Linked DNA regions of Homo sapiens: region 1 is linked to region 2. The links come from fine-mapping of genetic effects on gene expression. Tissue or cell type: whole blood. Region 2 holds a variant in brackets; the other region holds the start of a gene. All regions are shown on one strand. Distances are from middle to middle. Region 1 holds the start of TMEM121B (transmembrane protein 121B). Region 2 overlaps HDHD5 (haloacid dehalogenase like hydrolase domain containing 5).

The links.
Region 1: it holds the start of TMEM121B, and the variant in region 2 is fine-mapped to the expression of TMEM121B in whole blood (Lepik 2017, PIP 0.95).

Annotation. Positions count from the first base shown.
Region 1 is chr22:17,113,694-17,129,939 of GRCh38, reverse strand. It overlaps TMEM121B (transmembrane protein 121B), which reads left to right and starts at 8,580. Exons shown (of 1, transcript NM_031890.4): 1 at 8,580-13,643. The coding sequence starts at 8,813. The coding sequence ends at 10,549. It overlaps LINC01664 (long intergenic non-protein coding RNA 1664), which reads right to left and starts at 8,345. Exons shown (of 4, transcript NR_103793.1): 1 at 7,901-8,345; 2 at 5,169-5,285. It overlaps IL17RA (interleukin 17 receptor A), which reads right to left. Exons shown (of 13, transcript NM_014339.7): 13 at 14,247-16,246. RefSeq lists an enhancer at 7,622-8,153 and a silencer at 8,739-8,868.
Region 2 is chr22:17,144,106-17,158,051 of GRCh38, reverse strand. It overlaps HDHD5 (haloacid dehalogenase like hydrolase domain containing 5), which reads left to right. Exons shown (of 8, transcript NM_033070.3): 2 at 8,307-8,510; 3 at 9,492-9,604; 4 at 12,935-13,028. Among named protein-coding and RNA genes, the nearest start is that of HDHD5, 8.2 kb to the left of the region's middle. The variant G/C (reference allele first, on the strand shown) is at 5,205.

The DNA.
Region 1 (16,246 bases), 29 kb after region 2:
GTTGCTTGAGCCCAGGATTCAAACCTGCAGTGAACTATGATTGTGCCACTGCACTCTGGTCTGGACAACAGAGCAAGACCAATAGAGCAAAAAATTTTGTTTTGCTCAATTTTTGTTGAAATTCATGAATAGATATTAAATGTTTGTTTCTCTGTATTTGTTGAGTTGATCTTAAGTGTTCTTCTCCTTTAATCTGTTAATATGGTAAACCATATTAATATATTTTGTTTTTATCTTTTTTTTTTTTTTTTTTTTTGGAGACAGGGTCTCTCTCTGTCACCCAGGTTGCAGTACAGTTGTGCAGTCCTGGCTCACGGCAGCCTCGACCTCCCGGGCTTAAACAATTCTCCCGCCTCAGCCTCCCAAGTAGCTGGGACTACAGGTATGTGCCACCACACCCCAGCTAATTTTATTGTTTAATTTTTTGTAGAGGTGAGGTCTTGCCATGTTGCCTAGGCGGCTCTCAAACTCCTGGGCTTCAAGCGCTCCTCCCACCTTGGCCTCTAGAATGTTGGGATAACAGGCGTGAGTCACTATGCCCAGCCTGTTGTCATCTTTAACTCTTTCTTTCATCCCTGGGATAAAACCAAGTTGGTTATGTTACATGTTGCTGGCCGCTACTGCTGGTAATTTGTTCAGGAGTTCTTTGTCTATGTTCATAAGTGCAATTGGTCTATGTCTTAGTCCATTCAGGCTATTAGAAGACCATAGACTGGGTGTCCTGTGAAAACAGAAATTTATTTCTCATACTTTTGGAGACTGGACAGTCCAAGATCAAGGCATCAGCAGATTTGGTGTCTGGTGAGGGCCTAATTCCTGCTCCTTGGTTGGCCTGGACCAGAGAGGTGGCCAGCCTTTGAATCTGCTCTGCACTGTGGGTCCTTGCACTCTGGGCTGGTGATGGGAGTGCCAACTCTCATGATCTCTGAATTGCCTTCAGGGTCCTTCTTCCATTATCTTGGAGAACAGCTCCTAGCTTCTGTTGCAATGGCTGATCCATACTACTCTTACTAAAGGAGCTTGGCAACAGAGCAACACCGTTAGTGTTCTCTCCAAACTGGGTTCTCGTTCTTTTCTATATGGATGGGCTGATCATTTTTCAGAATTTCAAGTTCTTATTACTTTTTGCTTAACAGTTCTGTCTTTAAGTCATTTATGTCTCTCTTGAATTTTATTGGAAGCAGTCAGAAGGAGCTAGGTAACTCCTTCAATACTTTGTTTAGAGATTTCCTAAGCCAAACATCCAATTGCAAGTTTCATTGCTTGCAATTGTTACCTCCACAAAATGATAGAACATGAACACAATTTAGCTAAGCTCTTTGCTTCTTCCTAACAAGGATGGCCTTTTGTCCAGCTTCCAGTAAATGTTCTTCATTTCCATCTGTGGCCCCATCAGAATGGCCTTACTGCCTGTAATCCCAGCACTTTGGGAGCTCAAGGCGGGTGGATCACTTGAGGTCAGGAGTTCTAGACCAGCCTGGTCAACATGGTGAAACCCCGTCTTTACTAAAAATACAAAAATTAGCCGGGTGTGGTGGCATGCAGCTGTAGTCCCAACTACTCGGGAGGCTGAGGCAGGAGAATCACTTGAACCCAGAAAGTGGAGGTTGCAGCAAGATCACACCACTACACTTCAGCCTGGGCGACACAGTGAGACTTTGTTAAAAAAAAAAAAATTAAAAAAAAATAAAGAATGGCCTTACTATATATTCCCACCAGCATTCTGTTCAGGATTACTTAGGTATTCTCTAAGAAGATTGAGGTTTCGCTACAGCTCTCCTCTTTTCTTTCTGAGTCCTCATCAGGATCACCCTTAATGTCCACATTTCTAGCATACACCTCAAAACTCTTTCAGCCTCTACCTGTTACCCAATTTGAAAGTTGATGCCTTGGCTTCTCAAAGTGCTAGGATTGCCAGGTGCGGTGGCTCACGCCTGTAATCCCAGCACTTTGGGAGGCTGAGGCTGGCAGATCACGAGGTTAGGAGATCAAGACCATCCTGGTTAACATGGTGAAACCCCGTCTCTACTACAAATACAAAAATTAGCCGGGCATGATGGCGTGTGCCTGTAGTCCCAGCTACTCAGGAGGCTGAGGCAGGAGAATTGCTTGAACCCAGGAGGCAGAGGTTGTAGTGAGCTGAGATCGCACTACTGCACTCCAGCCTGGGCGACAGAGTAAGACTCCATCTCAAAACAAAACAAACAAATAAACAAACAAAAAACAAAGTGTTAGGATTACAAGAATGAGCCACCATGCCCAACCATATTTCCTTCTTTGTGTTTTCATTGTACTTGCTTTTCTTTCTCCAACTTTTATTTACTTATTTTGAGACAGGATCTCACTCTGTTGCCTAGGCTGGAAGTGGTGTGATCATGGATCACTGTAGCCTCAAACTGCTGGGCTCAAGAGGTCTTCACCTCAGCCTCCCAAGTAGCTGGGTCTACAGGCATGTACCATCATGCCTGGCTAATATTTTAATTTTTTATAGAGACAACGTCTTGCTATGTTACCCAGGCTGATCTCAAACTACTAGCCTCAAGTGACCCTCCTGCCTTAGCCTCCCAAAGTGCTGGAATGACAAGCCACTGTGCTCAGCCAATTTATTAAGTTGGATGTTTACCTTATTAAATGTTCAATTTTCTCCTTTGTAACACAAACATTTAAAGCTATAAATGTTCTTCTTCTGCTTTGGCTATGTCCCATCCATTTTGACAGGTGGTATTTTCATGTTCATTTAGTTCTAAATATTTTCTAATTTTTGGATGATTCATTTGGAAGTATGTCTTTACACTTCCAAATATGTGGGGGGTGGTTGGTCGTTGTTTTGTTATTTTATTCTAATCTAATTGTTGTGAGGTCAAAGGATTGGTCTGTACATGGTCAGGCTTTGTAAATGTTGCATGTAAAATTGTAAACAATGTGTAGTATCTAGTTTTGGAGGTACAGAGCTCTAAATTCAGCCATTTAGATCAAGCTTGTTAATGATATGGTTCAACTTGTATACATCTGTACCAATGTTTTATCTGTGTGAACTATCAATTACTGAGAGATGTGTTTATATTTCTTACTATCATTAGGTTATTTGCCAGTGTCTCATAAATATTACCCATTTTTATTTATATATTTTAGGGCAATGTTATTGAATACACACACATTCAGAACTATGGTCTTTCTGGAACTTGGTCCTTTTACAGCAGCAAATATGTATATAGCACTTTGTGCTGAGCACTTTCTATCTATTAATTCATTTACTCCTCATAACAACTCTGTGAAGTGGGTACTATTATTTTCCCCATTTTCTAGTGGGAAAATCAAGGAAAGAGAGATTAAGTAATTTGCCTAAGGTCACTCAGCTTCTAAATGGTGGAGTCAGCCAGGCGCGGTGGCTCATGCCTGTAATCCCCGCACTTTGGGAGGCCGAGGTGGGCAGATCACCTGAGGTCAGGAGTTCAAGAACAGCCTGGCCAACATGGTGAAACTCTGTCTCTACTAAAAATACAAAAAAAAATTAGCTGGGTGTGGTGACGGGCGCCTATAATCCCAGCTACTTGGGAGGCTGAGACAGGAGAATTGCTTGAACCTGGGAGGAAGAGGTTGCAGTGAGCCGAGATCGTGCCACTGCACTCGAGCCTGGGTGACAAAGTGAGGCTCCGTCTCCAAAAAATAAAAAAAATAAATAAAAATAAAATAAAACTAAATGGTGGAGTCAGGGTTTGAATCCAGGTAGTCTGGCTATAGAGTATGTGCCCTTCACTACTATGGTGTACTGTCTTCTATCATTACATAGTGAACTTCTTTATCCCTAAGAATATTCTTTGTCATATAGTTTATTTTTTTGGTATTAATATTGCCAAACCCACTTTTTAAAGTTGATATTTGCCTAGTTTAATTATATACATGCATTAAATTATATTTGTGTATTTTTTCTTCAGCCCTTTTTTACTTTGTTTGTCTTTATATTTTAGGGATGTTTCTCTTTTTCTTTTATTTATTTATTTTTGAGACAGGGTCTTGCTCTGTCACCCAGGCTGGGGTGCAATGGCGTGATCATAGCTCACTGCAACCTCCAACTCCTGGGCTCAAGGGATCCTCCCACTTCAGCCTTCTGACTAGCTGGGACTACAGGCATGTATCACTACACCTGGCTAATTAAAAACGATTTTTTGAAGGCCGGGCATGGTGGCTCACGCCTGTAATCCCAGCACTTTGGGAGGCCGAGGTGGGAGGATCACCTGAGGTCAGGAGTTCGAGATCAGCCTGACCAACATGGAGAAACCCCGTCTCTACTAAAATTACAAAATTAGCTGGGTGTGTTGGCGCATGCCTGTAATCCCAGCTACTCGGGAGGCTGAGGCAGAAGAATCGCTTGAACCTGGGAGGAGGAGGTTGTGGTGAGCTGAGATCTCACCATTGCCCTCCAGCCTGGGCAACGAGAGTGAAACTCCATTAAAAAAAACAAAAACAAAAACAAAACCTGCGTCCCTCAAAAAAAAAAATGGTTTTTTTTTTTTTTGGTAGAAATGGCATCTCATTTTGTTGCCCAGTCTGGGCTTGAGGGTTCCTTCTGCCTCAGTCTCCCAAAGTGCTAGGATTACAGGCGTGAACCACCATGCCAGGCCATGGGATATTTCTTATAAAAGCCTATAACTGGACATTTAAAAAAAATCCATCTGATCATGTGTCGTTTAATATGACATCTATTGTGATTACTGATTATTTAGCTTTATTTCTACCATCCACTGCATTCTGACTTCTGTTATTTCTGATGAGAAGTCTGCCATTAATCTAATTGTTGTTTGTTGTAAGTAATTTTTTTTTTACTGTTTGATTTCTCTTAAGATCTTTTTCTTGTCTAGAGTTCTACAATTTTACTTGAAAACATCTCGGAGCATGTTTATTTTTATTCATCCTGTTTAGGATTCATTGCAATTCCTAAATCTGTGGGTTGGAGAAGTTCTTTCACCAATTTTGGAAAATTCTCAGTTCAAATTTCTGTATTGTCCTTCCCTTATTGTTTTATATTCTCCTTCTGGAGCTTCTGTTAGACATATTTTGGATATTCCAATCTATCTCTCATGTCTCTTGTCTCCTAGATATTTTCAGTCTCTAGCTCTCTGTACTACATTCTAGAGAATGTCTTCATATATATTGTTAAATTTACTCACTTCAGTTGTGTCTAATTTGCTGTTGAGCTCATCCATTAATTTTTCAGTGACTATACAGCAGTCTCTCCCATTTGCAGTTTCACTTTTCATGGTTTCAGTTCCATGGTAAAGCACTGTCTGAAAATATTAAGATATTTTGAGATAGAGAGGCACCACATTCACATACACTTTTATTATAATATATTGTTATAATTGTTCTATTATTAGTTACTATTCTTAATCTCTTATGGTACCTAATTTATAAATTAAACTTTATCATAGGTATGTATAGGAAAATAAACATAGTATATGTATATCTTCAGTTTCAGGCATCCACTGGAGGTCTTGGAATGAATCCCTCATGGATAAAGGGAGGACTACTATATACTTGAAATCTAAAGGTTTCTTTTCTTTTCTTTGAGACAGGGTCTTGCTCTGTCACCCAAGCTGGAGTACAGTGGCATGATCATAGCTCATTGTAACTTCGAACTCCTGGCCTCAAATGACCCTCCCACTTTAGCCTCCTGGGTGGCTAGGAGTCACAGGCACATGCCACCACGTCTGGCTACTTAAAAAAAAAATTATTTTTATGGCCAGGTGTGGTGGCTCATGCCTGTAATCCCAGCACTTTGGGAGGCTGAGGCGTGCAGATCACCTGAGGTCGGGAGTTCGGGACCAGCCTGACCAACATGGAGAAACCCTGTCTCTACTAAAAATACAAAAATGAGCCAGGTGTGGTGGCGGGCGCCTGTATTCCCAGCTACTTGGGAGGCTGAGGCATGAGAATCGCTTGAACCCGGGAGGCGGAGGTTGCAGTGAGCCGAGATCGCACCACTGCACTACAGCCTGGGGGATAGAGCAAGATTCTGTCTTGAAAAAAAAAATTATTTTTAGAGATGAGGTCTTGCTATCTTGCCCAGGCTGATCTCAAATGTGCCCGGCCAGGTTTTTTGTTTGTTTGTTTATTTTTGGGCACCTCAGGTAGGACTGAAGTGTTTGTTTGTTTGCTTTCCCCCCAGACGGAGTATTGGTGAAACACCATATTGATCAGGCTGGTCTTGAACTCCTGACCTCACCCTGCCCCACATGGGTGGACCCTGGCCCCAACTGGCACCCTGAATGTCTCACACTGTGAGCCTGAGAAGACCGGCTCCAAGAATCAGTGCTCCTAACCATGGCAGCTTTGTTCCTGGGCACTTACCAAAGTGCAACGCTACTGGGGAGCAGAACTCAAGAGTCCAGGCAGAAAACAGCCATTGGTGGCCCCTGCTATGAGTCGATGTTCCCTGGGAGGCTAAGGCATGGGCTAATGGAATGATGATAACACAGAGACCTTTAACTGAGCATGGACTCTGAGCCAGGGACTGGCTCTGTCATCGAAGAGAGATTACACACATGATCTCTCTTCATACTCACAACAATCCCTTAAGGTAGGAGTGAGGTCCTTTTTTTTTTTTTTTTGAGATGGAGTTTTATTCTTGTTGCCCAGGCAGGAGTGCAATGGCACAATCTTGGCTCACTGCAACCTCTGCCTCCCGGGTTCAAGCGATTCTCCTGCCTCAGCCTCCCGAGTAGCTGGGATTACAGGTGCGTGCCACCACCCCTGGCTAATTTTCGTATTATTAGTAGAGGCGGAGTTTCACTGTGTTGGCCAGGCTGGTCTCAAACTCCTGACCTCAGGTGATCTGCCCGCCTCTGCCTCCCAAATTGCTGGGATTATCACCATGCCCGGCTAGTTTTGTACTTTTAGTGGAGATGGGGTTTCTCCATGTTGGTCAGGCTGGTCTCAAACTCCCGACCTCAGGTGATCCGCCCGCCTCGGCCTCCCAAAGTGCTGGGATTACAGGCGTGAGCCACCGCGCCCGGCTGGGGTGGGGTCCTGTTTACAGATCAACATTCTGAGGTGAAATATTCAGGCTAAGACCACAAAGGTGTTAAGTGGCACAGGTGGGATGGCGGCCCCAGAGCTCCTGCCCTCACCACCATGCCAGCTTTCCAAAAGTGGTGTGTGTGGGGGAGGTGGAGATGGTGCAGGTTCTAAATTGTATATTTACCAGGGATTGGCTGTGCAGACTGACCTCCACGGAACTGGAAAAGGCAGGTTTGGCTGAAACGGACTCTTATTTAAGAGGCAGATTTAGGGGCGAGGCCTGACTAACCCCTGCGGCTCCACTGCATACAGCTCCCTCACACTGCATGGTGTTATCACGCTGCAAGCTGTTACCTAGGGGAGATGAGCCCGCAGCAGCAGCTTCAAAGGTCATGAAATCAGGGAGCCCACAGGCCCCACAAGGGTGCAGAGGCCAATAGGGCAGGCAAGCTTTCTGCCTTGTTTTCATGGGGCTGGGAATGGGATGTTTCCATTATTGGTGAACCTCAGATTGTTTTTGAGCCCCAACTGCTCTAGTCATTTCCTTCTCCCTTAAACCCCTAAAGGCAGCACTCTACCTTCTGCCTTCCAGAGTTGCTGCATCGACATCCATCCCCAGCCTTGGATGAGTCCTGGGGTGAGCTGGTGTGCTCTCTCCTGAGACTGTCTACGCAGGGCCACTGACTGCATTCCTTCCTTGGTGTCTCTGTCTACTGTGGTGGGCTGTAACCCTCACCATCATCCCTTTGGAGCCTTTGTTTTCATCCAGGTGCCCACACCTCTAAATGCCCCTTTATTTTACTCTCTGCTAGACACATCTTCCTATTACGTCCCATTCTGCTTTAAAAACCTTTGAGAAGCCCGCTGGGCGGATGCCACTTGCCCAATCTCGTTCCCTCGTCTCTCCTCCCAGGCAGGTGTTTTCAGGGAACTTCTCCATCCGCTGGAATCGGGTCGTCCCTGAGATGGCTCGCGACCCCAGGGCTGGGTACATGGATATTTAGGACTATAGGTCTGGGGCTGCTGCCCGAGCCCTTTTTGCCAACATGGCCTGACTCCTCCACTGGTTTTTAGTGCCTTAGGGAGAGGCGGATGGCCCCATGGGAAGGGCGCTGGACGGAGGGTGGAGGCGAAGCTGCCCACTGCCTGCCTCAGAGCTGAGAAGGCCAGGTGCAAAGCCCGCCCTGTAGCTTGAGCCCATCGCTTGGGGGCACCGAAGCCATCTAGGTACTAACGCCCTGCGGTACAGCCGGTGGGATTCCCAGCGACTTCCTTAGGAGTCCGCGCTCCATGGGAGTCCCCCCGCACCGGGTCGCCTCGCCCTGGCGGCTGCCCGCGCCTCCTCCCGCTTCCTCCAGGCCACAGGGCTCCCGACCCGACTGTGACGCACTGCACCCCCGCCCCTTCTCTTCCCGTTGATCCAGCGCGCCGCGCTTTCTCCTCCTCTGGTCTCGCTGCTTCCTCTCCCCCTCGAATCCAGTCCTGGTTTCCCCGCCGCCAGCCTCCCTCCCTCCCGGCGGGACTCGCTCCCCGCCCCGCCCCGCCCCGCCCCCGCCTCGCCTGTCTTCACCGCGGTCCGCTCGGTTCACCGCCTGCCCCCTCTCCCTGCCGCCCGGCCCGGCTCGCCCAGTCCAGTGGCTCCAGTCCGGATCTCGCCGCCGCCCGGCCCAGGTGCGAGTCCCCACTGCTGGGGAGGCGGCGGGCCCCGGCTCCCCTCGGCCGCCTAGCCCGCCTCGCCCGCCCGGGGTTGGCGGGGAGGGAACAGCTGGGCGGCCCCAGAGCCCCTCGGAGGACAATGCGCCCGGCGCTCGGCCACCCTCGCTCGGTCTCCTCCGCGTCCGGTTCCTTCCCGCCGCCCCCGGCAGCCGCCCGGCTGCAGCCCCTCTTCCTCCGCGGGGGCTCCTTCCGCGGCCGGAGAGGCTCCGGCGACAGCAGCACCAGCACCAGCACCAGCCGCGGGGGAGGCGGCGGCAGACGCGGCGGGGGCGGCGGCTCCCCGAGCAGCAGCACGGGCGCCGAGCGCGAGGACGACGACGAGAGCCTCAGCGTCAGCAAGCCGCTGGTGCCCAACGCCGCGCTCCTGGGGCCGCCGGCTCAGGTGGGCGCCCCCGCCGGCCCCGCGCCTGTCGCCTTCTCCTCCTCAGCGGCCACCTCCTCCTCCACCTCCACGCCCACCTCCTCCTGCAGCATGACAGCCGCGGACTTCGGCGGGGGCGCCGCGGCCGGGGCCGTCGGGGGCCCCGGGAGCCGCTCGGCGGGGGGCGCGGGCGGCACCGGGACCGGCAGCGGCGCCTCCTGCTGCCCGTGTTGCTGCTGCTGCGGCTGCCCAGACCGCCCCGGCCGCAGAGGTCGGCGCCGCGGCTGCGCCCCCAGTCCCAGGTGCCGCTGGGGCTACCAGGCGCTGTCCGTGGTGCTGCTGCTGGCGCAGGGCGGCCTGCTGGACCTGTACCTCATCGCCGTCACCGACCTGTACTGGTGCTCCTGGATCGCCACTGACCTGGTGGTGGTGGTGGGCTGGGCCATCTTCTTCGCCAAGAACAGCCGGGGCCGTCGGGGCGGCGCAGCCAGCGGCGCGCACAACCACCACCTGCACCACCACCACGCCGCGCCGCCCCTGCATCTGCCCGCCCCCTCGGCCGCTACCGCTGGGGCCAAGGCACGCGGAGCCCGCGGGGGCGCCGGCGGCGCGGGGGGCGGCCTGGGGGCGGCCGCGGCAGCGGGCGAGTTCGCCTTCGCCTACCTGGCCTGGCTTATCTACTCCATCGCCTTCACTCCCAAGGTGGTGCTGATCCTGGGCACGTCCATCCTAGACCTCATCGAGCTACGCGCGCCCTTCGGCACCACGGGCTTCCGTCTCACCATGGCGCTGTCGGTGCCCCTGCTCTACAGCTTGGTGCGGGCCATCAGCGAGGCGGGCGCGCCCCCGGGATCGGCAGGACCCCTGCTGCTGCAGCCCCAGCGGCACCGCGCGGCCGGATGCTTCCTGGGCACGTGCTTGGACCTGCTCGACAGCTTCACGCTGGTGGAGCTGATGCTGGAGGGCCGCGTGCCGCTGCCCGCGCACCTGCGCTACCTGCTTATCGCCGTCTACTTCCTCACCCTCGCCTCGCCGGTGCTCTGGCTCTACGAGCTCAACGCCGCGGCCGCAGCGGCTGCATCCTGGGGCCAGGCCTCCGGGCCTGGCAGCTGCAGCCGCCTTCTGCGCCTGCTGGGCGGCTGCCTGGTGGACGTGCCCTTGCTGGCGCTGCGCTGCCTCCTGGTGGTCAGCTACCAGCAGCCCCTCTCCATCTTCATGCTCAAGAACCTCTTCTTCCTCGGCTGCCGGGGCCTGGAGGCCCTGGAGGGCTGCTGGGACCGGGGCAATCGGGCCTCCCCGAGTCGGGCCAGAGGGGGCTACGGTGCTCCGCCCTCCGCCCCTCCACCACCTCCGCCACCACCTCAGGGAGGCTCCCAGCTGGGCCACTGCATCTCGGAGAACGAGGGGGGTGCTCATGGCTATGTCAACACCCTGGCTGTGGCCTCTCAGAATTGAGGGTGAAGGGCACGGGTCCTTGTTTTTGGGTTGAGAGTCCCCAACCCCCTTGTCTTCTACCTTCTGTCACCTAGATTTGATCAGGGTCTATTTGGAAGAGGTAACCCTTTTCAGGGCTAAGGGCCAGGGTGTTCTTCTGCACCCTGGGGTGAGGACGGCTTGGAGGGAGACCAGCAGTTAACGGTGAGGGAGGTAGGTGCACTTACCCTCTCCTCTCTTCTCCTATCCTACCCCAATCCTGACCTCCAAGGGGCTGGTACCTCTGCTTCTTGCTTTGCCCACCTCCACTCTAATTCCCATCCATTAGGAGGAGAGGGGTGCTGGGCCTTGGACCTTCTCCCTTGCTTAGAAGTGCCAGCCTCTTTTAGGCTGTGGTTAGTGGCCATTGTCCCATGCCTTGAAATTGACCCAGAACCCACTTTCCACTGATGTGTCTCTTGGATTTCTTCCAGGTGATAGATACAAAGTGTATGTCTCTGTGTGTGTAGTGTTGTTTTCTCGTGTCCACCCTGTGGCCCTTTGCAATGGGTAGGAGATCTGGGGAGGCCCTGCCCCCTACACCATACTTATCACCACCCTCCTCTTTTCTGCCTGGATTTGTGACCATGAATTCCCAGGAAGAGCTGGGCCCCTGGGAGCTGCCCAGGTACTCCCCTTGAAGGGAGAATCTCACCCAGGATCTTCCTCAATACTGCTCCTCTCTTCTCAGCTCAGGGAGAGGAGGGGATCCATTCTCTAAGGACCAAACTGCACCCTTTCTTGGGTGAGTGAGCATTTCTACCTCCGTGCTTTCAACTTTTGTTGCATCATGCACTGATGCTGCTTGCAAAAAATGAAGACAAAATACTCAGAAGTTGCATTTGCCATGGCCACTGGCTCCAGCTGGGGTTTGGTGCCAGTGTTATTACAGGGTCTGCGGAGTATCAGCCATTGGCTTGGCCTCTCTCTGTTCCTCCCTCTGCACCTAGAACTCTTATCCTTCCTGTGGTTTGGTGCCGACTGGGTCGGATCTGGGCTTAGAGTAATAGCTTTGGTGGGTTTCCTGGATGGATGTGAAGTTGGGCCTCCCATGGGCCCAAGGGAGTAGGAAGCCCCATTCCCCACCTGTCCTTCCTCTAGGAAGTGTAGATCAGAAAGTGAGGTGGTGACCTCCCACCTCTGGTCTGGTTAAGAGTCTCACTAGGGCCAAGGCAGGCTGCAGAACTTTCCCTCTTCCTCTCATTGAGGGTGATGACAAGAGACATCCGGGGACTGTGCACTTACAGTCGGTGTGGAATGTCACTCTTGCAGTCTTTGAGGCAGGATAAGTATTTTTACATATTTTAAGGGTGCAGGAGGACAGCAGCTAACAAGGCCAGGAAATACTCACTTCCCTCCACCCTCAACAGGATGTGGTGGGGGTGAAACTTGAAGAATTTTTGTTTCCCCTTCTCCCTTCTTACGTTTGGGAAGTTTTATGTAGTGTAACAAACTCTAGACGAGTTACCAGAAGATGTGGATTCTAGTTCTGATTCTGTCACTCATTGGCTTTGAGTGACATATTTTTATTTCCTGGGCCTGTTTTCTCACATTAAAAAAGTAGAAGTTAGATGAGTGATCTCTAAGGTTGAAGGTAATTTCAGCTCTCACATTCTTTTGAGTTTGTGGCTCTTGAAAGCCCTGGTCCTGATGCTCCCTGTAAAGGTGGCTGGGAGAGAAGCCAGCCAGGCTGCACTTGCAGAACATTCCCTGCTCTGTACTGGGTGTGTGAAGCCCCAGCAGAGAAGGCCGGAGGGAGGGCTTGGGTGCCTGGGCTGGGTGTGGGGCAGGGCCTGGCACAGCTGCAGAGTGCACAGGGAGGGTCAGAAGTGCCAAGTCACTGGCCGTTAACTCAGCACCCAGGCCAAGCCCCCGCCTCCCACTTGAAGCCCCCTCTTACAACTGTTTTGGGGGCTTGGAGCAGAAGACACCCTTGTAGACAGACATAAGAGGGGCAGAAGGCTTGACCAGAGTTCTCTTGAGCCTCCTCATGCTCTCAGAGCAGGGAACAGCGGGGGAAAATGTTTACACTCCATGCACAATCTGTGCTTCCAGTCCCTCACCCTATGTGGCCCAATAGCTGGCTGGATTTCACACTTAATTGGTATTTTTTTCTGCCTTCTTCCCCTGCCCCCACTGACTCCTCTCCTCTCCCTTTGATTGTACTCAAGGTTCTGGGGCCTGGGCCCTGGGTGGGTACCAACAGCTGCTCGCTGTTCCCATGTCCTCTCTCCAGCTTTGCTGTGTTTCTCTGCTACCTAATCTCAGTGACTGTGAAAGGACATTGTGTCTGAGCCATGGCCAGCCGCTGGCTGGCCCCCTGATCTGCCCCCCTTCTATTGTTTGGATGGCCATCTCCTGCTGGGCCTCCCTGACTGTAAAATCTCTGTACTGTTTGTTAGGTTTTTGGTGGGAGGCTGTGATAAGTTCCAATGAGCTGCCACTTCCCTGGATATGTCAAGAAGCTGATGGCAACTTGGCCAATTCTGGCAGATATCAGGCCCCCAGTTCAGCCCCAGTCACCCTCTTTTACACATGTGGGTCAACCACTGTGTGCTCAGAGGGTCAGTCCCTTCCTCTGCTGTGTTTTTCTTGAGTCCTTGCACTCACTTCCCCTGCCCCAGTCACGATGACCCCTAAAGCTTCCTTTGCCCTTGCTTTCTAGGGCATCCCTAGTGAAGGGGCAAACCTGAGATTTCTCCGTGGACCTGACAGCCAAGGCAGGGCACTGTCTCCTGAGGCCAGTGCCAGCACGTGCATGGTTCACAGAAAAGGATCCTGGGCTCAGAATCTCGAGAACCGCCTGCTCCTAACAATTCAGCAAGTCAGGGGCTTCCTCTCTGTTAGTCCCCAAATCCTTACTTATTTTAAAAAGACTAGACCCTCTCTAAAGACTGTTCCATTTTAACATGTCCTGATTCTGCATCCGTGGGTTTTGTGAAAGAGAGCTAGCTGGCGGTTAGAGCCTGGAAGAAGGAGGGAAGTGGCACCTCACTAGCATTTATCACTTTTTTCCTTCTCTTTTTAAAAATAAAACCAGACTCTGTTCTGAAAATAAAAAACTTGAGACTTGTGACAAGCTTCCTGTGTGGTTTGTTTTAAGATCTTTTCTGTCCTGGTTTCCTTACAAAATTCTTAAATGTCACTGTGACATTCGCCATTATTTTATAAGTTTGTGTTAACATTATGGGTACACCTTGGCCCTTCTAGGCAGTTGGCATGTTTTTCAGGGAGGCAGTGAAGCTGTGGCCTGGAGCTGGTGAGTGTCTTGACATGCTTTGTTGGCACAGCCAGCTCAGCTCTAATGGACTCAGCCTGAGAACGATTTTTTCTCATCACCCTCGGCTCTCTCTCACTTTTCTTTCCTTCCTTCTTTCTTTTTCTTTGTTTTTGAGACAGGGTCTCACTCTGTCACCTGGGCTGGAGTGCAGTGGCGCCATCATAGTTCACTGCAGCCTCAACCTCCTGGGCTCAAACAATCCTCCTGCCTCAGCCTCCCAAGTAGCTGGGACTACAGAAGTGTGCCACCACGCCCGGCTTCCCATTTCTTTCTAAAAGAGTAGCTTTCCAAAGGGGGAACATCTTGAGAAACTAATTTTTAAATACTGTGCCCTCCTCTATCACTCTTGCCCCAGCCAGAAGCACAAATTCTTACGTATGAATAAGAAGAACAAGGCCATGGGTTTTTGTTTGGTTTTATTTTAACATGAAGGGTAGTATTAAGTCTAAGCAAGAACACTGGGCCTGCACCAAAATAAACAAACACACAGTGATTTTTTTTTTTTCTTAGCACAGAGGCAGCCAGTATTACACAGCCCCTCTCTGTGTTGTGACCCTAGCTTGCTGCTTCTGGCTGTGCCAAATGCTAAGCAGGCGTTTCACTCAGGGCAGCCCGGGAGGCAAGGTCTGAGAGTGGAAGCTCCTGGGAGCCTGAGCTCTCTCTGCCTCTCGTTAGCTGTGGCTTTGGCCATCAACTGGAACTATGTCATTATTTATAAAACAGGAGCAATCACAGGGCTGTGGTGAGAATCACATGAGGTGACACATGTGAAATGGTCCTTTCCCCTAAGACATATATAATTGTAACAAGGAACAAAATTTACATAGAAAATAATTACAGAACAACGTAGGACCATGTCTTCATTTCTCCCTGGAGCGGATGTAAAATAAGGTGATTGATTTGAGCAAGCATGTTATGAATATTTAGAAATGTCTTCTAGGGAAGCAAGCTGGCGCTCACCGATTTTGGTTTGCCAGGCATATCAGAAGGCACTTTGTGACAGGTGCAGTAGGGACGCGGAGTGATCTCTTCACGTGTAGGCAATGCCCAGCCCACACCTAGGCCTTGCCTGAGTCTGGCCATGCAGTTCTTGCCCTAAGGAAGAACAGGAAAATATAGCGCGTGGTTGACTGTCAGGCCCTCTGCCCCTTCCCTCGTCACAGCCACCTTCAGGGCTGCTTTCTCTCCATTTTCCTGAGGCCGAGAAAGAGGAGGTAGCTGGCACAATGCCACATTGCAGTCAGGAAGAAAAGCCAGTGTGCACCAAGGCCCTTCTTCCTCCCACATCTGCACTGCTCCAGGCAACCTTCGGTAGTCGGCTGTTGCTTGGGTCCAGCTTCCTTTCCATGAAAGCTCAGCCATTCTAGCAAAAAAGCAGGGGCTGTTTTCATCTTCTGAGAGAATCCCATGACACTGGTGAGCAGAGGCGGCCAGTGGGACACCCGTGCAGGGAAGCAGGCAAATGCAGGGACCAGCCACCCGCATCCCTCCTTTCTACTCCCTCTCCTCCTCCTACCTGGTCACTGTGTACCTTCTTCCTGTCTCATCAGAGAGGAAGGATCCAGTGAGCGAACTCATCTTATAGTCAATGACCTAAGGGGTTATTCCTCCTGGGAAGGACTCCAGGGGGAGGTGGGCTGGGCCAGGCTTCCTGGCACACTTCAAACCATGAGACAGGAGACTGCATGTTCCTCCCACAGGCAAGACTGGCCCACCCGGGTGACTGCCTGCTTTCATCAACCTAAATGGACAGGGCGAGAGTGTGGACCCAGTGCTAGGATCTGGGAGAGGCGATGGGGCATGGAGAGCCATGCAGAGGTGGAGGGCAAGATGGACCTGGATGCCATTTCAGAGTGAGGGGAGGCCCCGTGGGGAAAGCGTCGGGTACAGAATTAACATGAACAGCTTGTGCAATGGGTTTAGGGGTAGCTGCTTTTCTTCATATTCTTCTATAAAATATACCCATGGAATCCATATTGTTGCCATTTTTCCACAATGGACATGTTCACTCAGCCAAGTACTTCCTGAGCTCCTGAGAGACGCCAAATATGGGAACACATATTACTTCTATAATCTGAAAAGGCAAACACCGGAGGAAGAGAGCAATACCTAATAGCAGGGAAAGAGGATCAGTGGTACCTCAGGGGGCACAAACTGCTCTGCCCCAGAAGCAGGCTGGTGCCACTCGGGGATACTGCAGGCTTGCCAGGACCCCATGAGGTGGGAACTCCTGCCCCACCCACTTTACAGATGAGCAAGCTACCTAGGGCGGACGAGCAGCTGGCCAGCCCCCAACCCTGCTGCCTCTTCTTTGTAAGGATCCTCTGTCCGACACAGTTGACTTGTGGGATGCAGGCCCGGCTGCTGGAGCAGCGGCCCTCCATCTCACTCTGTCCTCA
Region 2 (13,946 bases):
AGTGCACCCGGCCAAATTACTTGCATGAAAAAAACACATAGTGCTTACTTTGTGCCAGGCACTATTCTAAGTACTTCACAGTTATTCGTATAATCTTTATAACAACTCCGAGGAAAGTACTATTATTAGTCTTCCCATTTTATAGATGGAGCAGAGGCACAGAGAGGTTAAGCAGCTTACCCAAGGGCACACAGCTGGTAAGTGGCAGAATCTGGAACTCAGGTAGTCTGGTGCCAGAGTCTAAGCTCTTAACAGCTGTATTATTTTTATGATTTTTAAATATGGAGCAGCTAAGGTTCAAAGCAGCTGAGTGACTTGGCCAGTGTCACATAGCTAGACGTGACCAAGGTGGAAGTTTGAAATTAGAATATGTTGATAAAAGGACTTACAAACTGTCAGGATATAAATATAAGGAAATATCGCCCTTATTTATAACTGTTGTATTGGCTCTAGCATCTCTGCAGAGTCCCGAAATGTCTCCAAGTGACTCTTCCGGTAGAGCAGAAAAAGAAGAATGCAGGATGACAGAGTTTGAGCACGAGCTTTAGAATTGAATCCTGTGCAGTCTGTTAGCGGCTTCACTTAAGGCAATTTACATAGCTTTCCAAGCTCAGTTTCCCCATCTATGTAATGGATCTATTACTTGTAATCCCAGCTACTCGGGAGGCTGAGGCAGGAGAAGCCCTTGAACCTGGGAGGGAGGTTGCGGTGAGCGGAGATCGGGCCATTGCACTCCAGCCCGGGCAACAGATCCTGACTCTTATCAAAAAAAAAAAAAAAGAAAATTAACCTTAGTTTAACTTTCTTGCTTTACCAAGTTTTTAATTTTTAAAATTTTTTACTCTTTTGTAATAGCACTTAGTTTAAAACACAACACATTGTACAGCTGTACTAAATATATCTTCATTTATATCATTGTTCCATAGCTTTTTTCTTTTGTGTGTGTGTGTGTGTGTGTGTGTGTGTATGTGTGTGAGACGGTGTCTAGCTCTGTTGCCCGGGCTGGAGTGCAGTGGCGCCATCTCGGTCCACTGCAACCTCTGCCTCCCAGGTTCAAGTGATTCGCCTGCCTCAGCCTCCCAAGTACGTGGGATTACAGGCGCCTGCCACCACGCCCAGCTAATTTTTGTATTTTTAGTAGAGACGGGGTTTCACTGTGTTGGCCAGGCTGGTCTCGAACTCCTGACCTCATGATCCGCCTGCCTTGGTTTCCCAAAGTATTGGGATTAGAAGCATGAGCCACCGTGCCCAGCCAGCTTTTTTTTTTTTTTTGAGACGGAGTCTCGCTCGCTCTGTTGCCCAGGCTGGAGTGGAGTGGCGTGGTCTCGGCTCACTGCAAGCTCTGCCTCCTGGGTTCACATCATTCTCCTGCCTCAGCCTCCGGAGTAACTGGGAGTATAGGTGCCTGCCACCACGCCTGGCTAATTTTTTGGATTTTTAGTAGAGATGGGGTTTCACTGTGTTAGCCAAGATGGTCTCGATCTCCTAACCTCGTGATCTGCCCTCCTTGGCCTTGCAACATGCTGGGATTACAGGCAGCTTTTTTCTATTAAAAAAAATTACAGGTGTGCACCACCACGCCCGGCTAATTTTTTGTATCTTTGGTAGAGATGGGGTTTCACCATGTTGGCCAGACTGGTCTCGAACTCCTGACCTCATGATACGCCCGCCTTGGCCTCCCAGAGTGCTGGGATTACAGGCGTGAGCCACAGTGCCCTACCTTAAAAAAAATTTTTTTTTTTAACTTTTGTTAAAAATGAAGACACAAACACCTACTAGCCCAGGCCTACATAAGGTCGGGTCAGGTAATTGATATCACTGTCTTCTGCCTTCACACCATGTCCCATTAGAAGGTCTTTAGGGGGCAGTCATATGCATGGAACTGTCATCTGCGATAACAGTGCTTTCTTCTGGATATCTTCTGAAGGACCTCTCTGAGGCTCTTGAGGTGTCACTCTTATCAGAAATATGTCCATTGTGGTTTGCTTGGTTTCTTTTTTTTTGTCATAGGTTTGCTTGTAAACAGATAATGTACCATAAACATTCTTCTCTAGTAATGAAAACCTTTTGGCGTTGGAGTTCATGTTTCAGACTTTTTAAGGAACTTGAGGTCTGTAAAAGCTGCTGAACCCTTCACTGTGAATTTTCTTGGATGTTCTTTTCTTTCTGTGGCTACCTTTTCTCTTGCCTCTTCTTCAGCTATGAGTTCCTGTTCCATTATAATCTTAAGGGACCATTGTATATGCAGTGTGTCATTGACTGAAACATCGTTATGGTGCGTGACTGTATTACCATCTTGCATTAGTGTGGTACATTTGTTATAATTGATGTACACCTTCACTTTTTATGGTACTGGGTGCCTGGTTCTCTGTGTACATCCTGAAGGTTGGGGAGGGGTTGGAGTGATGGGTGAGGGAGCCTTATGGATATTGCTCAATTTTCCTGAAAACTTTGCTGTTCTAAGTAGCAGGGGCTATGGATTCTTATTTTTAAGAAAGCAGATCTTGGGCCGGGCGCGGTGGGTCATGCCTGTAATCCCAGCACTTTGGGAGGCCGCGACGGGCGGATCACGAGGTCAGGAGTTTGAGACCAGCCTGGCCAATATGGTGAAACCCCGTCTCTACTAAAAATATAAAAAATAAGCCAGGTGTGTTGGCGCGCGTCTGTAGTCCCAGCTACTTGGGAGGCTGAGGCAGGAGAATCACTTGAACCCAGGAGGCAGAGGTTGTAGTGAGTCGAGATTGCACCACTGCACTCCAGCCTGGGTGACAGTGAGACTCCGTCTCAAAAAAAACCAACCAAACAAAAAAAAAAAAAAAAGGAAAGCAAATCTTGTGACTGTTTAGGCAATGACCGTTAAAACTATGTATGGTAAATTTTGCAACCATTGTACAAATGAGCTGTTTTTTAACTATGTAAGTTTTCAAAAATTCAAAAATGGGGAATAATATGAACCCCTGTGCCCATCTCCCAGATTGAGCAATGATTAACATTTTTCAACACCTGCTTTGCTTATCTCCCTCCTCCTTTTTTTGTGGCTCTAAGATTTTAAAGTAAATCTCTGATTTCTTGTCATTTCAAACCTAAATTCTTCTGTGTGTACCTCTAAGAAAAATAAGGACATTCTGGCTGGGTGCCATGGCTCACACCTGTAATCTGAGCACTTTGGGAGTTGGAAGGATTACTTGAGCCCAGGAGTTCCAGACCAGCCTGGGCAACATAGGGAGACCCTGTCTCTACAAAAGAAAAAAAAAAAAAAATTAGCCAGGCATGTGGTGGCACATACTTGTAGTCCCAGCTACTTGGGAAGCTGAAGCAGGAGGATCCTTTGAGCTCAGGAGGTTGAGGTTGCAGTGAGCTGAGATGACACTAGTGCACCCAGCCTTGGTGACAGAGTGCGACCCTGTCTTGTCTCAACCAAAAAAAAAAAAAAAAGAAAATAAGGACATTCTGAACATAACCACGATGCCAGTATCATACCTAACAACATTAGTAATTCCTTAATATCACTTAAAATCTAGGCCTTTTAAAAATTTATTTATTTATTTTTTGTTTTTATTTATTTATTTTTTGAGATGGAGTTTCCCTCTTGTTGCCCAGGCTGGAGTGCAACGATGTGATCTTGGCTTACTGCAAACACCATCTCCCGAGTTCAAGCAATTCTGCCTCAGCCTTCCGAGTAGCTGGGATTACAGGCATGTGCCACCACGCCCAGCTAATTTTGTATTTTTAATAGAGACAGGGTTTCTCCGTGTTGGTCAGGCTGGTCTCGAACTCCCAACCTCAGGCGATCTGCCCACCTCGGCCTGCCAAAGTGCTGGGATTACAGGCGTGAGCTACTGTGCCCAGCCAAGTTTCTTAAAGAAACACTGTTTCTTAAAAAAATTGTTGGCTGGGCGCGGTGGCTCACGCCTGTAATCCCAGCACTTTGGGAGGCCGAGGTGGGCAGATTGCCTGAGGTTGGGAGTTGGAGACCAGCTTTGAGACAAGACTAACCTGGGGAAACCGCATCTCTGCCAAATACAAAAATTAGGTGGGTTTGGTGGTGCGCACCTATAGTCCCAGCTACTTGGGAGGCTGAGGTGGGAGGATCGCTTGAGCCCAGGTGATGGAGGTTGCGGTGAGCCAAGATCACGCCACAAAAAAGTGTTGGAATCACCCAGTCCTTAAGGGACTTACTTTCTAAGAGCCACTCTTTTCCTTCAGAAAGGGATAGGGTGGTCGGGAAGTATCTATTTCTCCCTAACCATTTATCCTTTGGGTCATTCAGCATCCAGTCAGCCTTTGTCAATCACCTGTGAGTCTAAGCACTGTGTCAGGTATGGGGGTAAAGGGCAAATCACATCCCCTCCTCCCTTTAAGCCCAGGTAGTGATTCTCCTTGAGAAGAATAAGAAAATGAAATCCGAAAAGTGCTATGGTTACTTTTCCCAGGAAAAATGCTTGTAGTGTTTAAAGGGGATTTATGGCCATCCTGAAATCTATCTGTGGGCCTAGGTTAGGACCCCCATTCTAGTGAGATTTCTTGGGGAATAGGGAGGGGCTCCAGGGATCCTTGAGGGTACATGAGTGTATTGAGGAGAGAGAAGAAATGGAACTCACAGCTGGGAGCTGGCAGGAGGTGGGGGAAGCAGTCCTGGGGTCCCCTGTTTTCTCTGAGGTGCTGCCGAGTTGCCAGCTGAATTTGAGACTGAATCCTGAATCCAGCACTTGTGAACTGGGTGACCCTTGCTGAGTTCTTTTTGAGGTTGATGCCTTATTTGTCCAGTCAGGTAATTTAGTGCCTGTATATTGAACACCTTGTATAAACCGGCACATTTTGCCAGGCAAGGCCATTTGGAGATGCTGACACTTCCTCAAAGGGCTGCCAAAAAGAATACATAAAAATGCCTTTGTTACATGTCTGGCTGAGTGCTTGGGACAGTGACAGGTCTGGGTGCAACAGCATAAGCCTGTGAAGCCAAGGGTTAGAGGCACCATTTGTCCAGGCATTTCCTGTGTGGCGTGTGGGGCTTGGTCAGTTTTCTCTTGGCAGCTGTTTTTTGGTGTTCAGGTGTGATATCTTGTTGGCTCGAGTTGCTTCCTCCTGTTTTTCCAGGGTCCCTGCCCTCCTCCTGCTTGGCTCTGTAGCTGTCATTGTCCAAGCTTGGAGGGCTCATGTACAAGCTAACATGGAGGAGGAGCTGGAAGATTGCCTCTCCCGGG[G/C]GTCTTGCCTGTTCAGTGGAAAGAAGATGGGATCATTACAGCCACTCCAGTCCCTGTTTTACTGGACCCGAGACATACCTCAGCTTCCTGGACCCCACACGCTCTTGGTTTTCCTCCTTGCACTGTCTTTTGCTGGCAGGTCTTGTGTGGTCCATTATTAAGTAGTATTGTTCTTCCTGGTTCTCTGAGAGGCGAGACCTTCCAAAATTTTCATCTCCAGGACCTGTCCAGTGCTGATGTCTCCACTTGCCTGTCTCCCAGGTCCAAAGTGGGACTTAACCTTGTATCCTCCAATGACCTCTCGCTGCCCGCTCCTACTGTGCCCTTTGGTTCAGTGACTCATACCCGCATCCACCCTCCCGGGTTCCCAGACCAAAATAAAAAAGCATGGGAGTCCGTGTGGCTCCCTCTTCCCTCCACCCCTGTATCTGGATGGTTACCAAGTCATGACTGTTCTGTCTCTGATAATGCCCCCTGATCTCCATTCTTACCACCACTCTCCCAGGTAAATGCTCCATCTTCTCTGTCTTGGGTTGCATTTGGTCCCACCTGGTCTTTCAGTTAACTCCCTTCAGTCCACCCAATGCAGTCTTTTCTCTGCAGCCAAATTTTTTTCTATAGTTCAGGTCTGATGATACCACTTTCCATTTTCAAACTCCTTAAATTGGCCTCGGAGACCTGTGATGGCCAATCTTCCCCACCCCTGTGGGTCAGGTTCCTCTGGTGTGGGCCTATCTCTTAGTGCAAGGCTCCCTGTAGACTGTCCTGGGGCTGCCTGTCTAATTGTCTTCTCATTGAACCAGGTAGGCAGGCAGGAACCACTCATCTAGTCTGGGGGTGACTGGGGGGTGCAAAGAGTTTTGTTACAGGATGTATTTAACACTTTCATTGTCTGGCTCAAAATTCTCTTTGAAGAAACTGCCTTTGTTTAATTCTGTTTATTTATTTAGAACTTACCTAGAATTGATTTGCACTTGCAAAAATGCTGCTGTTTTAGAGTTTGCTTTCTAGGCTGGTTGCTTGCTCTGTCACCTTAGCTAAAAAGTAGGTACTGGAGCGCCTTTTCTCTTCTCTTCTCTTCTTTCTTTCTTCTTCTTTTTTTTTTTTTTTTTTTTTTTTTAGTAGAGTCTAGCTTTGTCGCCCAGGCTTAAGTGCAGTGGCACGATCCCGGCTCACTGCATCCTCTGCCTCCCAGGTTCAAGTGATTCTCCTGCCTCAGCCTCCCGAGTAGCTGGGATGACAGGCGCCCACCACCACACCCAGCTAATTTTTGTATTTTTAGTAGAGGCGAGGTTTCACCATGTTGGCCAGGCTGGTCTTGAACTCCTGACCTCAAGTGATCCACCCTCTTGAGCCTCCCAAAGTGCTGGGATTACAGGCGTGAGCCACCACACCTGGCCTGTAGCGCCATTTCTGTTTCTGGTTGCTCTATAAAGGGAGCTCTGTGCGTAGAGTAGGTGTGTCAGTAAGAATGACTTGACCTAGTTGGCACCAACAAAGAAAAATAGCAAACAAGTTAGGTTAGGTTTTTTTGATGATTGAAGAACATCTTGTATGTTAACAGGCAGTTTATAAAATGAGAAATGGAATGATTTTTAAAAACAGCATTCAGCTTTATAAATCCAGGAAATGCAGATAGAAAAGAGATAATTTTTTTACCTTTAAATTATAAAAAAGTTTGATAATTAACAGTTGTGAAAATCAATATTGTAAGGGTAAAGTACGTTGCCAGTGGACATGTTTTTGAACAGCAGTTTGTCAGTTGGTGTTTATGTAATTACATTTGCTCTCTCTGATTTATTACTCCTATTTTTAAGAATCTAGCTCAAGGAAATACCCATAATATGGGAAAAAAATCAGTATTCCTGAAGAGGTTCCTTGTAGCATTATTTTTCATAGCAAAATTGTGGAAAAACCTAACTGTCCAAAATATAGAGAACAATATTAGTGAATTATTCACTCAGAATAGTATGTAGCCAGAAATGATGTTTAGGAAATAGAGCTATGCATAATTAATATGGAATGATAGGGCAGGGTGCAGTGGCTCAAGCCTGTAATCCTAGCACTTTGAGAGGCCAAGGTGGGTGAATCACCTAAGGTCAGGAGTTCAAGACCAGCCTGGTCAACATGGCATAACCTCGTCTCCACTAAAAATACAAATATTAGGTGGGCATGGTGGGGTGCACCTGTAATCCCAGCTATTCGGGAGAGTGAGGCAGAAGAATCACTTGAACGTGGGAGGCAGAGGTTGCGGTGAGCTGAGATAACGCTGCTGCACTCCAGTCTCGGCGACAGAGCAAGACTCTGTCTCAAAAAAAAAAAAAAGACAGCCAAGAGATACCAACTAAAAAAGTAAGATGGAAAACAAAGTCAACATGATTCTATGTGTGTGTTAACATTAGAAAGGTGTGTATACTATAGATTTATAAAAGCCTTCTGGAAATTATGCAGGACAGGAATAGGACTAAGTAAGTTGGAGACAAGAAACTTTTGAAACATTTTTATATTGTCTGTAGTGATTGAGGTTATTTTGTTTTTAACTTTTTGCTATAATAAAATCTTAAAAGATGGTTATAAAGACTATTGTAATCCATAAAAATATTTATGATATGTCAAGCAAAAAAGAACGAGATGATGTAAAATGGCATATAGTTCATTTGTAGCTACAAGACAAATATGAGAATAGAGAAAAAAGGGGAACTATTAATTGGTTGTTTTAAAGTGTTGGGATTAGGCTGGACTCGGTGGCTCACGCCTAATAATCCTAGCATTAAATTTAGGAAGCTGAGGCGAGAGGATCCCTTGAGCCCAGTGGGTCAAGGCTGCAGTGAGCCGTGATCATGCCACTGTACTCCAGTCTGGGCAACGGGAAGACTCTGTAAAAGCGAATGATTAAAAATAAGTGTTGGGATTATATTTTCTTTGGATTTCTCTATTTTCTATTTAAAGATTGCCCTATCAGAATCCCATCTTCATTTTTTTGTTCTTTCTGACATAGGTTTTCAAGGGACATGAGTGACCCGAGGATGGTGTTGAGCCTCTCTTTGTAAGGGTTGTTTCTTTGTTACTCACGTACTGGTAATTATCTTACCATCTCTGCAGAGCCCACCCACCTTTGGGTTCCTGTTGGACATCGATGGAGTGCTTGTGCGGGGCCACAGAGTGATCCCTGCTGCTCTGAAAGCCTTCCGAAGGCTGGTGAACTCCCAGGGGCAGCTGCGGGTGCCCGTGGTTTTTGTTACAAATGCTGGGAACATCTTACAACACAGCAAAGCCCAGGAGCTGTCAGCCCTGCTGGGGTGCGAGGTGAGAAGGCAGCCAGAGGCATGGAAGCCCAAGGACCTGGTTCCTAATGGAGCCGCTGCCCCAGCTCCAAGTCCCTTTCCCCTGGGTTGGGATATGGAATCACCTAGTCCTAGGTCATGGCCACAGCTGAACACAGAAATCCTGCCTGTGTATTTGGCAGTTGTAGATTATGTCCTTGTATCTGTTTCTTTTCTTCTGGGCATTGGGGGTGTGAGTCCCTGGAAAGCAAAGGTCACACACATGTCTAGAACTTGCATAGCAGGAATAGCAGGTGTGGCTCTGGCGTCACACCTTGGCTTTCCTGGGTATGATGTGTGCACCTGAAGGAGTGCTGTCCTCCTCAGCCACCTGCAGCCCTGCACCATATCCCAACTTTGATGCATTCTTGTTTGTTGAGGGTGAATTCAGCTTTTGGAAAGAGTCCTTTGGAACCAGGAGAGTAAATAAAATAGCTGATTGATTAGATGATGCTGCTCAAAGTTGCATGTAAAATGTGACGGAATCAAATTGGTTCCTTGCTGTGATTTCCAGAGAGAATTCCAAAAACCTTCCAAGTAAAGGCTGCATTGTTAGGGTTAGTATAAATGTTAAGCAGCTAACTCTTAGCAGGAATGAAAATAGAAAGTAAAAGACCAGTTTCTGCGACAGTGACAGGGAGCACACATGAACCCTATGGCTTCCAAGTGGGGGCTTGGGAAATCCAAACTGAACCTGACGGGGTAGCGGTGGCAAGTGGTCAGAACCCACATCTGTGGCATTTCTGGTCTCTTGTGTGGCAAGAACTAAATGAGACAGGTTCTTCTCAGATCTGTTTGGGTGCCTTTCAGAAGTGCTGCTGGGTGCTAGAAAGGGCTTTCCTCCCCGTTCTTTTTCTGAGCGGGTTTTTTCCTTCCCTAGGCTAAAGGACCTGCCACCTGTCTCATTATTTCCCTCAACAGTTCTGTCTTCCTCTGCCCTCCCCTGTCTTGGCTGTCCCTACAGGTGGATGCAGACCAAGTTATCCTCTCTCACAGCCCCATGAAGCTCTTCTCCGAGTACCATGAGAAGCGGATGCTGGTGTCTGGACAGGGGCCCGTGATGGAAAATGCCCAGGGGTATCCTTTTGGTCTTAACTCTGGCTGAAGGGAAGGGGCAGGGCTGAGGTGTTTCCTCCCTTAGCTGAGTGGGGACTGTAGTGAGGAGTGCTGGGTGCTGGGGTACACAGGCGATGTTGTGGGCTCAGGGGAGGGAGGACAGCTCCCGACTGTGGTCAGTCCTCATGTCTGGTGGTTTCCAAAAGCCAGTTCTCATACCCCTGCATCAGAATCCTCTGGGGAGCTTAAAATACAGATCCCAGGGTATCTGCGCTGGAGCCTTAATTCACTAGGTCTCGGGTAAAACTCAGGAATCTGTATTTTTTAAAAAACAAAACACCTCTCTTAGTGGTTCTGTAACTGGGTTTGGGAACCCCTGCTCTAGCCTCTTCCTTGGGGTGCCCAGTCAGTTTATTAGCCAGTGGTAGTGAAGCAGCTACCGGGAGCCTGTCTCTGGGAGCCTGCGGAATAATACCTGGCCCGTTTTAAGCAACTGTTGTGCTGAGCACGTCCTGTGTACCAGCGGTCTGCCGCACACTCTGAATGGGACGAGGACCAGGATGAGGGCGTAGGACTTATGAATCAATCAAGGGCTTGTGCTGGAGGCAAGAATAACACCATGAGCAGTAAAGGAGCGTGTGCGATGGCGTGTGATCGAAGGCCGGTAAGCTCACAGGAGGGCGTCACAGGTGTGGGGCGTGTGTGATGGCGTGTGATCGAAGGCCGGTAAGCTCACAGGAGGGCGCCACAGGTGTGGAGCGTGTGCGATGGCATGTGATCGAAGGCCTGTGAGCTCACAGGAGTGTGCCACAGGTGTGGGGCGTGTGCGATGGCGTGTGATTGAAGGCCGGTAAGCTCACAGGAGGGCGCCACAGGTGTGGGGCGTGTGCGATGGCGTGTGATCGAAGGCCGGTAAGCTCACAGGAGTGTGCCACAGGTGTGGGGCGTGTGCGATGGCGTGTGATCGAAGGCCGGTAAGCTCACAGGAGTGTGCCACAGGTGTGGAGCGTGTGCGATGGCATGTGAAGGCCGGTAAGCTCACAGGAGGGCGTCGCAGGTGTGGGGCGTGTGCGATGGCATGTGATCGAAGGCCGGTAAGCTCACAGGAGTGCGCCACAGGTGTGGGGCGTGTGCGATGGCGTGTGATCGAAGGCCTGTAAGCTCACAGGAGTGCGTCACAGGTGTGGGGCGTGTGCGATGGCGTGTGATCGAAGGCCGGTAAGCTCACAGGAGGGCGTCACAGGTGTGGGGCGTGTGCGATGGCGTGTGATCGAAGGCCGGTAAGCTCACAGGAGGGCGTCACAGGTGTGGGGCGTGTGCGATGGCGTGTGATCGAAGGCCGGTAAGCTCACAGGAGGGCGTCACAGGTGTGGGGCGTGTGCGATGACGTGTGATCGAAGGCCGGTAAGCTCACAGGAGGGCGTCACAGGTGTGGGGCGTGTGCGATGGCGTGTGATCGAATGCCGGTAAGCTCACAGGAGGGCGTCACAGGTGTGGGGCGTGTGCGATGGCGTGTGATCGAAGGCCGGTAAGCTCACAGGAGGGCGTCACAGGTGTGGGGCGTGTGCGATGGCGTGTGATCGAAGGCCGGTAAGCTCACAGGAGGGCGTCACAGGTGTGGGGCGTGTGCGATGGCGTGTGATCGAAGGCCGGTAAGCTCACAGGAGGGCGTCACAGGTGTGGGGCGTGTGCGATGACGTGTGATTGAAGGCCGGTAAGCTCACAGGAGGGCGTCACAGGTGTGGGGCGTGTGCGATGATGTGTGATTGAAGGCCGGTAAGCTCACAGGAGGGCGTCACAGGTGTGGGGCGTGTGCGATGACGTGTGATCGAAGGCCTGTAAGCTCACAGGAGTGTGCCACAGGTGTGGAGCGTGTGCGATGGCGTGTGATCGAAGGCCGGTAAGCTCACAGGAGGGCGTCACAGGTGTGGGGCGTGTGCGATGACGTGTGATTGAAGGCCGGTAAGCTCACAGGAGGGCGCCACAGGTGTGGAGCGTGTGCGATGGCGTGTGATCGAAGGCCTGTAAGCTCACAGGAGTGTGCCACAGGTGTGGAGCGTGTGCGATGGCGTGTGATCGAAGGCCGGTAAGCTCACAGGAGGGCGTCACAGGTGTGGAGCGTGTGCGATGGCATGTGATTGAAGGCCGGTAAGCTCACAGGAGGGCGCCACAGGTGTGGAGGGGAGGGCTTGGAGTATCCCTGGGGCAGGAGTTGCCTGTGGCTTCTTGGAGGGGTACAGCGGAGCCCCAGGAGATGGCTAAGCTCCTAAGCAGGGGAAGTAGGAGGTTGGGAATGGGATAGGGAGAGGAAGGAAAGAACAGGAAGGGTGGTGCCAGGTTGTCGGGAACCTTGGAAGTAAACTTGAGGAGTCTGACCGACTTCTCAGGGCAGTGGAAAGCAGGGCACGCTTTATTGCTGATGGGGCAATCTGATAGAATCAGGATTTTGGGGAAATTCATTTTGAGAGTAATCAAACCATGTCCAGTTAAGATTGCAAGTTGGAATTGAGGATAGGAAAATGGAGGCAGATCTTAGAGGAGATAGGCTGAAGCTGGCTTGCCCCTCCCCAAGGCCGCCTCTTCCTTGATGATTTGGGTTCATCCTTTAAGATTTTAGCTCCAGCCCTACTTCTCCATGACTCCTCTGGACTCCCCAGCCCACTGAGGAGTCTCTTCTGAACTCAGCACTGACTAGCAGCACTGTTCTCAGAGAACACTGGTTTTGATGGGCTCTGAATGTGCTAGCTCCTTGGGGACAGAGTTTTTTGTTTTTTTTTGAGACAGGGTCACACTCTGTTGCCCAAGTTGGAGTGCAGTGGTGCAATCATAGCTCACTGTAGCCTTGACCTCCTGGGCTCAAATGATCCTCCTGCCCCAGCCTCCTGAGTAGACGACAGGTGTGCACCACCATGCCTAGCTGACTTTATTTGTAGAGACAAGGTCTCACTATGTTGCCCATGCTGGCTGGAACTCCTGGGCTCAAGCCATCCTCCTGCCTCAGCCTCCCAAAGTGCTGGGATTTCAGGCATGAGCCACTGCACCCAGCTGGGGACAGAGATTCTTATGTGCCTTTGCCCCCTAGGCTGTGCCCAGCATAGGACCTGGTAGCTGGCATGTGCCTGGTGACTGCTGGTGGGTTACCCAGGAGCTGCCCTCTCTACTCTACCTGTGCAGTTACAGCCTGCCTGCCAGCACCTGCAGGATTTGTGCCATCCTTGCTGGGCTCTGCTTGGTGCCCTCCTGCCTGGCTTGATCAGGAGTGGGTTGTGTTCCCTTCACTTGTGATTTGATGCATTCAGAAAGGCATCTTCCCCAAGAACTGTCCAGCATTACTTCCTGAGCTTGCTCCAGACTGGGCTTCCGAAATGTCGTCACCGTGGATGAGCTGCGGATGGCCTTTCCTCTGCTTGACATGGTGGACCTGGAGCGGCGGCTAAAGACCACGGTAATAAGGAGCATGGGTTGGGCTGTGTCTTCATCCTTCACTCCTCCAGTGCCCTGCATTGGCTGTGTCGCTGACCTTGCAAGCCCTCCTGCAGAGCTGTGATTTGTCCATGCTTCTTTGGAGGCACATCTGGCTAAGGGTTTTGTTCCCTGAATTTATGAGAATGGCCCAGAGGCTGGCTGCGGTGGCTTACACCTGTAATCCCAACGCTTTGGGAGGCTGAAACAGGAGGACTGTTTGAGCCCAGGAGTTCAAGACCAGCCTGGGCAACATAGTGAGACCCCGTCTCTACAAAAAAATTTAAAAAATTGTCCAGGCATGGTGGGTCACACCTGTAATTCCAGCACTTTGGGAGGCCAAGGCGGGTGGATCACCTGAGGTCAGGAGTTCCAGACCAGCCTGGCCAACATGGTGAAACCCCGTCTCTACTAAAAATACAAAAATTAGCTGGGCACAGTGATGGATGCCTATAATCCCAGCTACTCGGGAGGCAGAGGCAGGAGAATAACTTGAACCTGGGAGGCAGAGGTTGCAGTGAGCTGACATCACACCATTGCACTCCAGCCTGGGCAACAGAGCGAGACTCCGTCTCAAAAAAAAAAAAAAAAAAGCCACATATGGTGGCGCATGCCTATAGTCCCAGCTACTCAGGAGGCTGAGGCAGGAGGGTTGCTTGAGCCCAGGCGTTGGAGGCTGCAGTGAGCTGTGATCACTGCACTCCAGTCTTGGCGGCTGAGTGAGACCCTGTCTCAAAAAAAAAAAAGGAAAAAGCCCAGAGAAGCGAACGGCTTTATGCCCTGTCCTCTCTGTATTGCTTATAATTAGCTGGGAACCCGTTTCAGAGCCACAGCATCCCGTCCAACAAGGAGTTCCAGACTTACTGGCTGGCCTTCCCAGTGCTGCCCAGGAGAGCTGGCC